Regions from separate parts of the Homo sapiens genome. Here region 1 is linked to region 2. The links come from fine-mapping of genetic effects on plasma protein levels. A gene starts in region 2. The other region holds a variant in brackets. All regions are shown on one strand. Distances are between the middles of the regions.

Region 1 (4,383 bases), 56 kb before region 2:
AAACACCGTGTTCAGTGACCCTGCCTGGGATGGGCGGTGGGGCTCATGGAGCAGGAGCACGTCCCACCTCACCCCCGGCCTCTGCACTGTCTCCTTACACACATCCCTGAGAAAGAGCAGGCCTCCAAGAAGCACGCAGAATTATTCCTGGAATTGTAAATACAAAGTGTTTACAAAGATGGCGCCATAGAGAATGAACACCCTGTCTGTTCCCGCAGAAGCGACTTCCTGCAGATCATCACCAGTTCACAGGGTCTGGAGCAAACCAGGGTCATCGATTCTCAGGCCTGTGAGTAACAACAGACGCGACTGCTCGACCCGGCAATTCCTCTATGTGACCATGTTATTGATCCAAGCCCAAAGTCCAGATGACACACATGGAGTAAAACACAAACTTAAAAAAAAAAAAAAATGAAAAGAAAGCATCACCCTAGGTCCACGTGTCTCAACCATTTTTTTCATTATAGCCCCTCTGAAGAGGCTTTTTAGACATTTTTTTCTAATAAACTTGCCCAGAAAGTTTTAGTCCCACAGAGATACAAGCTGTACGTACAGAACGTACATAAACATTCCACTCTGCAGAGCCGCAGACCCGGGTAGTATCTCAGATGTTTCCCCGGAAGAACAACATTCACCGTCTGAGAACATTCACCACTGGGCATGCGTGGGCTCAGTCCCCACCGCAGAAAGTGAGGGTGGGCTCGAGGCCGCAGAAAGTTGGGGGGGACCAAGGCAAAGCCCCGCGGCGCCCAGCCTGACTCACTCAGCAGAACCTTGTCCCCGCCCCGCACGCGACTCCAAGGCCCTAAGACGTGTGGTGTGTTCGCTTCAGCCAGGAGCCTGGTTCTCACTCTCTGTGCCCAGTGCCCCGATGCTCGTGGCCTTTTCTGCAGAGCTCCATGAACTCAACACGTGTGCAATTCCACCAAACGCGCTGGAAAAACCACGTTGCTAGCAACACTTAGGGCTGTGCCATTAGCCAGAACAGAAAGTCGCAGCTGTGGGCTTCAGGCCCTAAACACGCAGCATGATTTGTCCCTTGACTTTCCCTCCGTGGACATTTCCTGATGGTGCAACCGGTGGTCATCATCTCCCTCCCAGAACAGAAATTCCCCTGGGGCCCGGATGCTTTCCCGTTTGGTTCACTGCTCTCCCCAGCTCCCGGAACCACGCCTGACACAGTGGGTGCTCAGCACACACGTGAGTGAGTGAGCGAGTGGATGAATCTACTCACAGGCAAGCGGCGATGACTTAGATCCATTTCTTAGGAAAAACATAAGGAAAACATTAAGTGAGAACCTTCTATGAACACAAATGATATGAGAGCAAATCTGGAGTGGTTTCCTGGATTCCGCTCCGGGAACACGTGGCCTCCACCAGGCCCAGTTTGGTAATCAGTGCGACGCCAGATGTCGGCCAAGTCAAGATGAGAATGGGGCCAGACGCCTCCTTAGGAGCATTTTCCTCCAGTAAAGGTGGGGACAGAGGTGAGGTGGGGAAGGGTGGGGCAGGGGTGAGGTGGGGCAGGGTGGGGAAGGGGTGAGGTGGGGCAGGGTGGGGAAGGGGTGAGGTGGGGCAGGGTGGGGCAGGGGTGAGGTGGGGCAGGGTGGGGCAGAGGCTGTGCTGGCTCTTCCTCTGCCCCTTATACCCTGCCTCCACCCGCCCCGTCCTGTGCCCATCAGCCAGGCTCTGGGCTCTCTCCCTTCATGTGCTCAGCAAAAGGGAAGCCCCAGAAGGTCAGAGGGCATCGGAGCAGATAGTGGGGCCAGGATTCTTTTCCCTCAGCCTACCAGGGCACAGTCGCTGCCCCGGGGGCCCCTCCATCTCTGCCCGGGGAAAGCCATCTCTTCCAGGGCCTGCCTGGCTGGCCCTGGGGAAAGCAGCGTGCCCCCATTCTTGTTCCTGGCCCGTGACTGTGC[T/C]GTCCCCCAGAGCTCTCCACTCCTGATTGCACCTTTGCAAATCCGCCTTCCTTCAATGTGCCCCAAGTTACTACCTGGCCCCACGGAGCCCCACCGATGGTCAGGCTCTGCGTCCTTCACCCCACGCAGCACATCTGAGCCAAAGCCACGCTGCTGCTCCGCCTTCCGTTACACAAAGAGGGGACTTAAAGTTACATGAGGCTTCAGAGGAGTGCTGAAATCTATGAGGAGACACAGAGACTTCCCAGCCTGTGCAGAAGACCGGCTCAGGAACTCAATCCAAAGAAGTCAGACCAAGTGGAGTAAGAAAAAGGGCTGTTATTCGGTTATTTGGAGAATTATCAAGTCCTCACAGTTACCATGTCACATTGGGGAGTGAACAAACATCGCAAATGAAAATATTCCCTGGTAAAGGAACTCCTTGATAACTGGCTCCTGCTGACACATGCCTGTGTGCTCAAGGAATCCCCTCACCCATCCGTCACACACTGCTTGTCACCTTCCCTCAGCGCGAGAATTCAACGCCACCCTGGGAACACAGTGTGAAGGAAACTCCAAATCTTGCCAACAAGGTGGCACATGGCAGCATCTCTGAGTGTGATCTTGGGTGATGGTGAATTCTTGAAGGAGACTGAGCCCCTGACTGACGCAAACAGCAGAAGGAGACAGCATCGAGGGTAACAGGCGACTTCCTCAGCACCGATGCTGCCCAGGTGACGTTGTTCTCTGTTTCGAGCAGCACTGCAGCCAGGGCCTTTCAGAAAGGACGGCAACAGCCACAATTCCTGCCCATGCCAGGAGCCCCCGCAGCTTTGCACTGTTAAAAGTCAAACCAGCAGGAAATCTGCCAGAAAACAGTACAACGCATAGGCTTCACCTACACTCTCAGCTCTTATCATTTGCCATGTTCACTTTATCTGGCAGTGGTCACGCTCACACTTGACACACACATACCACACATGTACACACACACACGCACATGTATGCACATACAACACACAAATGCACACACGCGCATTTGCATGCCCACAGCACACACAAAACACACATGCACATATGTGCACACATAACGCACATACACCACACAAGCACATACATGCACCTGTGTGCACACACACAACACACAAATACACGCACACATGCACATTTCCTTTCTGCTGAAGCACTAGCGGTGTGTTGCAGGCATCACAGCATACTCCATCTCTACCACGTGTCTCCTAAAAATGGAGACTGCCTCCTATATAACCATCAAACAATGATCACACTCAGAAATTTAACGAGGACCCTACAAGATGCTCTAATGCACAGTCCAGAGTCAACTGCACACACCCCCCACCATCACACACGTCCTCCAGAACTCCACTTCTCTCAACCCAGGAATGTGCATTAGCTCAGGCACGAACCTCTTTAGTCTCCCCCAATCCGGAACTGCCCAACTTCTTCTCCCTTGCAATCGAAACCACAGCAGCACACAACATCGCTTAGTTCAGGTGTGTCTGACTGCTTCCTCGTGAGGGGCGTGAGGCCATGCATCTGACAGGAGTATGCCACAGGAGGCATGGACGTCTCCCATGACGTGACAGCAAGAGACACGGGCCCACAACGTGTCCCACGTTGATAATGTTGAGTGTGGCCACCTGGCTGCAGGCGTGCGGCAGACATCCCCATCACCAGGCACCCTCCGACCTGGTACAGCTAGGACTCTGCAGGTCGGTGAGGTCCCCCGCCCCGCAACCCTGCTCCCGCTGGTGTGCACATCCACTGATAGCTTCTGCCTGGGTCAGTTACTGCACTGAGGGCTGCAGAACCGTGACCTACTGGTTCCATCGGTGCTCCGTGTCACTCTATAGTGACTAAGGACACACGCTGAGCCGGGTCCACCTCCCCACTCATCTTTCTCGAGCACCCGTGAGTCCCTCACAGCCTGGGGAGAGGCCCTTCCCTCTGTGGGCTGTGGCTTCCATCTTCACAGGAGGACTGGGAGCAGGCCAGTCTCAGCCCCGTCCACCTGGAGGAACCGGCTGTCCCGGTGCTGGCTGAGCCTAGCACGAGCACCCGTAAAAGCTGAACAGTCTCCATCATTGCGGGGCCAGGCAGCGAGTGAGACTCAAAGGATCCTAGGGGTACAAGCAGCCGGGCAAGAAGCAGCTAAGCCCCCACCGGGCCGTGGGTGGTCAGATATCATCCCCTCCGTCATCACAGGAGCCCTGGAATGGTCTGCCTGGGGCTGGCTGTGGAGACAAAAGTTCCTTCCGGCCCAGGCCCCACCCTTTGTGCACTGAGACTCACGTACTGACTTAGACCCTCACCCTCATCCCTGGAGAAGAAATTAAAGGACACTACGGCACCAAAGCATCCTTTCATCCTCACAACACACTGCGGATGTATGAGGATGACAGCACACAATACAAAGACAAAGACGGAGGGAAGTCCCCTGCAGGCTGGCAGGAACCCGGCATATGTG
Region 2 (4,383 bases):
GAGAAGCAAGGTGTCCAAGGTGGACACGTCCTCTCTTTAACGCAGCGCTGGGCATGTTTATTCGTTCCCAAGCCACAGGAGCCCTTGTTTCATTCAGCGATTTGGCTGAGGAGAGGGGAATGTGTGGAAACTCACAGCTTCCACACCTTTTTAAAAGGAGCTCCCTATGCATGTGGACGAAACAGAAGTGGCAGCGTCCCCACCCCCGAGTTGGTGAATGGAGGTGGTGGCGAGGCGACGATGCCTGGAACATCCTGGCATGGGGCTGCCGGGCAGCCGGAAAGGAGACAGAGGCTGAGGGCACAGCCCCTGGCCCTAGACCCCAGCAGGCTCCTGGTGCTCCATCCAGGAAAGGGGCTCTCCCTGGAGGCCTGGGTATCGCCCTGGGATCTGCCCACAGTGCTGGCCTGAGTCCATTTGTGGTTGATCATTAAAGGCTGGTTCCCAGCCAGGCCCAGTGGCTCACATCTGTAATCCCAACACTTTGGGAGGCCGAGGTGGTTGGATCACCCGAGGTCAGGAGATCGAGACCAGCCTGGCCAACATGGCAAAACCTTGTGTCTACTAAAAATACAAAAATTAGCCAGGCGTGGTGGCATGGGCCTGTAATCCCAGCTGCTTGGAAGGCTGAGGCACAAGAATCGCTTGAACCCGGGAGGCAGAGGTAGCAGAGAGCCGAGACTGAGATCTCACCACTCAACTCCAGCCTGGGTGACAGAGTGAGACTTTGTCTCAAAAAATAAAAACAAAAATAATTTTTTTAAAAAGGCTGATTTCCCATCAGAGACAGGCAGGGCCATACAATAGCGCTCGGGGGGGTGCCCAGCCAAGCTCTGGTGGGGCGGGGGCAGAGGCTGTGCTCACAACAGGCTTCCCAGCAGGGGTTCAGGCACTAGCAGGGTCTCCTCCCCACCTCCTGCAACTTCCAGCAGGGAGCAACAGCCCAGTGACTGCCTGCTGCTCCCAGAAAGCCTCGTCTTCCCATCCCTGCCCCTGGCTGACCAGAACGTGTGCCCACACTCTTAACAGCGAAGGGTGTGTGCCTCCCTGTCTTCCCGAGAGAAGCCCCGTCCTGATGCTTCCTGGTTGGGTGTCACAATGGCCAATGGAATGTGGCTCTGGGGCTGGAGCAAGGGTGGCCCTCTATCCCGAGTCCCACTCATCGGCTGCTCCAGGCTAAGCTGGTCAGCACTCTGAGGCTGGAGGTCCCGAGACCCTGCTATGGGCCAGAGCTCCAACTCCCCACCAGTGAATCTGCCCTGAAGACATGAGATGGGTGTGGTGGCTCACATCTGTAATCCCAGCACTCTGGGAGGCCAAGGCGGGCGGATCACCTGAAATCAGGAGTTCGAGACCAGCCTGGCCAACATAGTGAAACCCTGTCTCTACTAAAAATACAAAAAAAAAAAAAGCTGGGTGTAGTGGTGCACACCTGTGATCCCAGCTACTCAGGTGGCTGAGGCAGGAGAATTGCTTGAACCCGGGAGGCAGAGGTTGCGGCCACTGCACTCCAGCCTGGGCAACAGAGCAAGACTCCATCTCAAAAAGAAAAAAAGGAAGAAAGGAAGAAAGAGAGAAAGAGAGAAAGAAAGAGGCAGAAGGCATTCAAATGAAGATCATATTTCCTTAATCACAATGTTTCATATGACCCAGCTCAAGGGGCCCAGAACCACTTCTCCATCCACCGCTCAGCCGGTGAGGGGTAGCAGAGCTGCCCAGGGTCACAGTGTGTGGTGAGGCAGTGAGGTCGGGGACCAGGAGCCCAACAAGGGCCATTCGCTGATGCCTCAGAGATGAACAAGTGGGCTGTTCCTGAGATACCTGCACTAGGCAGGGGGAGAGCGGTGCTCAGAGTGAGAAGGAAACACTCTTACCTGGATGGTCCTGCGATCTGGAGTAGACGCCACGCACCTGCGCACAAAAGACCACAGTGTGAGACACACTCAGGGAAAGCCTCCGGAGAAACCAAGCCTGTCGCCATCCTGGCCACTTGGGGACATTACCTGAAAGTTGTAATAAAATAGCAGCAGCCAGGAGTACCAGCAGCACAGCCGCAGCAGCTTTTCCATGGCTCTCTCGGAGGTCAAAGCTCGGAGCCAAGTGAAATTCCTGAGGGTCTGTGAGAACGGGACCTCTTAACCTTCACTTCCTTGGAAAAGGGACATTTTCACAGGTTCCAGGGGAGAAAATTTCTGTCTCCTTAAAGTTTGTGAAACACAGCTGTCTTGGAGACCTAATGGGTGTTTCTTCCTCGTCTCAAAACTTGAGATTCTTCAGTGATCAATAAACACGTTGCGATGACCAGAGCAGCTGTGGAATGCAGGGAGGAGAAACCCAAACCCGACTCGCAGTCCTGGGAAAGCAATCCCAGGTCACCACTGTGACCGCGACCTGCGCCCGGGGACGGGAGGCTGTTTGTCCTGCGGTATTTTCTTTTTATTTCAAGAGCCTCCGTTTGTCTCAGTCAGGTTTGGAGCTTCCCTTTTCTCTGAAGAAGGTTTTGTGCGTGGTTTTCCCCTGGAGCGCCCGCCTGCTCCTCGGGCTTGTCCTGCGGCCGCTCTCGAGCTCCTTCTGGTCTGGCTCAAGTTCACACCTCCGTCCTGCTCTCTGGGTGGAGGGGGAGTGAGTGATGTAAGTCTCTCTCCTCAAACTTTGTTCTGTTCTCCTTTTCTATTTATATCCCCACTGCTGTGTCCTTCCTGGGTCCTAACTCCAGCCTCTTAACAACAGCTGAAATATTTCCAGGATCTCAGGCTCAGAATCAAACCAAACAGACATGGTGTGTGGTGTGTGTGCGTGTGCGTGTGTGTGTTACTGATGCCTTCTGGTCAGCACCTTCAAAGTCGGCATAAATATTAATAAATACAAAATGCAAAACAAACCATAAACTCTGTTTAGATCTGAGTCTTGTTTGCCCCCAAAAGAGAATGAAGTTGACAGAGGGATGGAAAAGAGAAAGCAGCACACCCACTGTGCCCTCCATATTAAGCGCTGACCACATTTTTCTCTCTAATCCTTTCGGACGTCAGTGAAAGCTACGGAATTAATTACAAGGTACGCTGCGCAATTACACCATCCCACATATACCCCCACCCCAGCACCAGGAGGATGTTCTCAATGGGATAGAAAAGAGTCAGCCCCTTCGCCAGACATGCCTCAGTTTACCCAAGACCAAAGTTTATCCGATCTACTCCAAATACACGTGGACACACAGAGACACACACCCTAGAATTGCAGTCACAGCTATATTTGCTATGTGATTTAAGTAATATTTACCGCTTCATACTTTCTCCAACATTCACCAGCTGTGCTCCTAGGCAAATTACTTGATCTCTCTTAGTTTTCGAATTCCTCATCCACAAAATGGGGGTTAATAGTTCCTCCTCCTCAGGGCTGTAACAATAAATTAGAGGACAGATCCAAGGCTCTTCAGGCAGTACTTGGAAAATATGTGGCACTCAGTAAATGCTGCTATTTTCTATTAAGAAAAATTATCACTCAGTAAATGTTAGCTATGATTATTATTAGCAAGTATAACATAACACCCAGTAAATGTTAGCTGATACAGTTATCTCAATTGTCCTGACTTTAAATGGGAATTAAGAATCCTGAATCCAACATACTTCCTAAAGAGGATAAGAAAATGACTTCCAATCTCTGTGGGACAGAAAAAAAGAAAGTGCTGTCAAAACGTTAGGTGATTATTTTTAACTTGTGCCTGCAGCCTACAACCGCTCAGATCCTCTGATAGCCTGAGCCTCTCTGTGGAGCTGGAGAAGGGTTCCAGAGAGTTCCATCTCCTAGCAATGGAGAAACTGTGAACTCCAAAGGCCGGGGGCTGTCTGTAATAACGACCTTTATCCTGTTGCTCAGGCTGGTCGGCTTCAGGGAAAACTAATTTACAACCTTTATCTCTGCCATTTCATCAGCTCTCCAGTCCCCCACTGCCTCTCGCTGGAAGAGGTGAAGGGAGGGACAGGCAGCTGCAGGTTTTTCTCAGCTCCAGTTTTAACCTGGAAGAATTCAACAGATTGCTGAATATGCGGACCTTTCCCATCTCCATGACCGAACAAAGCCAGCATGGTTTCTTTTCATCATAAAATTGTCATCAGATAATGGGAGACACCCCGATTCAATGACTGTAATAAAAACTAGATAGCAAAGCAATTCAGCAGAGCTTGCCCTGCAGGCATCTGCACTCATCCTCAGACTCACTCTGACTCTCCATCCCGGACTACAGTCTCGTGCCTCATGCTATTTGCCTGCGTCCTGTCTCAGGCCTTGTTCAGAGGCCCAGATGAAGAGCCCGCCTCCATGTAAAGCAGCGTGTCCTGAAGCCTGGAGATTTGAGACAGGGCCTTGAGTGGTCCATGGGCCTGGAAC

Alleles and levels. Alleles are on the strand shown, and positions count from the first base shown. The strength of an association depends on the size of the effect and on how common the allele is.
With allele C in place of T in region 1, the plasma level of the protein whose gene starts at base 2,628 in region 2 is lower (moderate association).

The links. PIP is the chance, under the fine-mapping model, that this variant and not a neighbour inherited with it causes the effect. Protein levels are from antibody-based Olink assays in UK Biobank. Linkage for the fine-mapping came from a reference panel and not from the study's own genotypes, which makes the PIPs less certain.
Region 1: its variant is fine-mapped to the plasma level of the ADGRD1 protein (UK Biobank, PIP 0.99).

Annotation. Positions count from the first base shown.
Region 1 is chr12:131,008,307-131,012,689 of GRCh38, reverse strand. The region is part of intron 12 of ADGRD1 (adhesion G protein-coupled receptor D1); the gene reads right to left. Among named protein-coding and RNA genes, the nearest start is that of ADGRD1-AS1, 17 kb to the right of the region's middle. RefSeq lists an enhancer at 1,019-2,218. The variant T/C (reference allele first, on the strand shown) is at 1,920.
Region 2 is chr12:130,952,152-130,956,534 of GRCh38, reverse strand. It overlaps ADGRD1 (adhesion G protein-coupled receptor D1), which reads right to left and starts at 2,628. Exons shown (of 25, transcript NM_198827.5): 1 at 2,004-2,628; 2 at 1,875-1,911. The coding sequence starts at 2,069.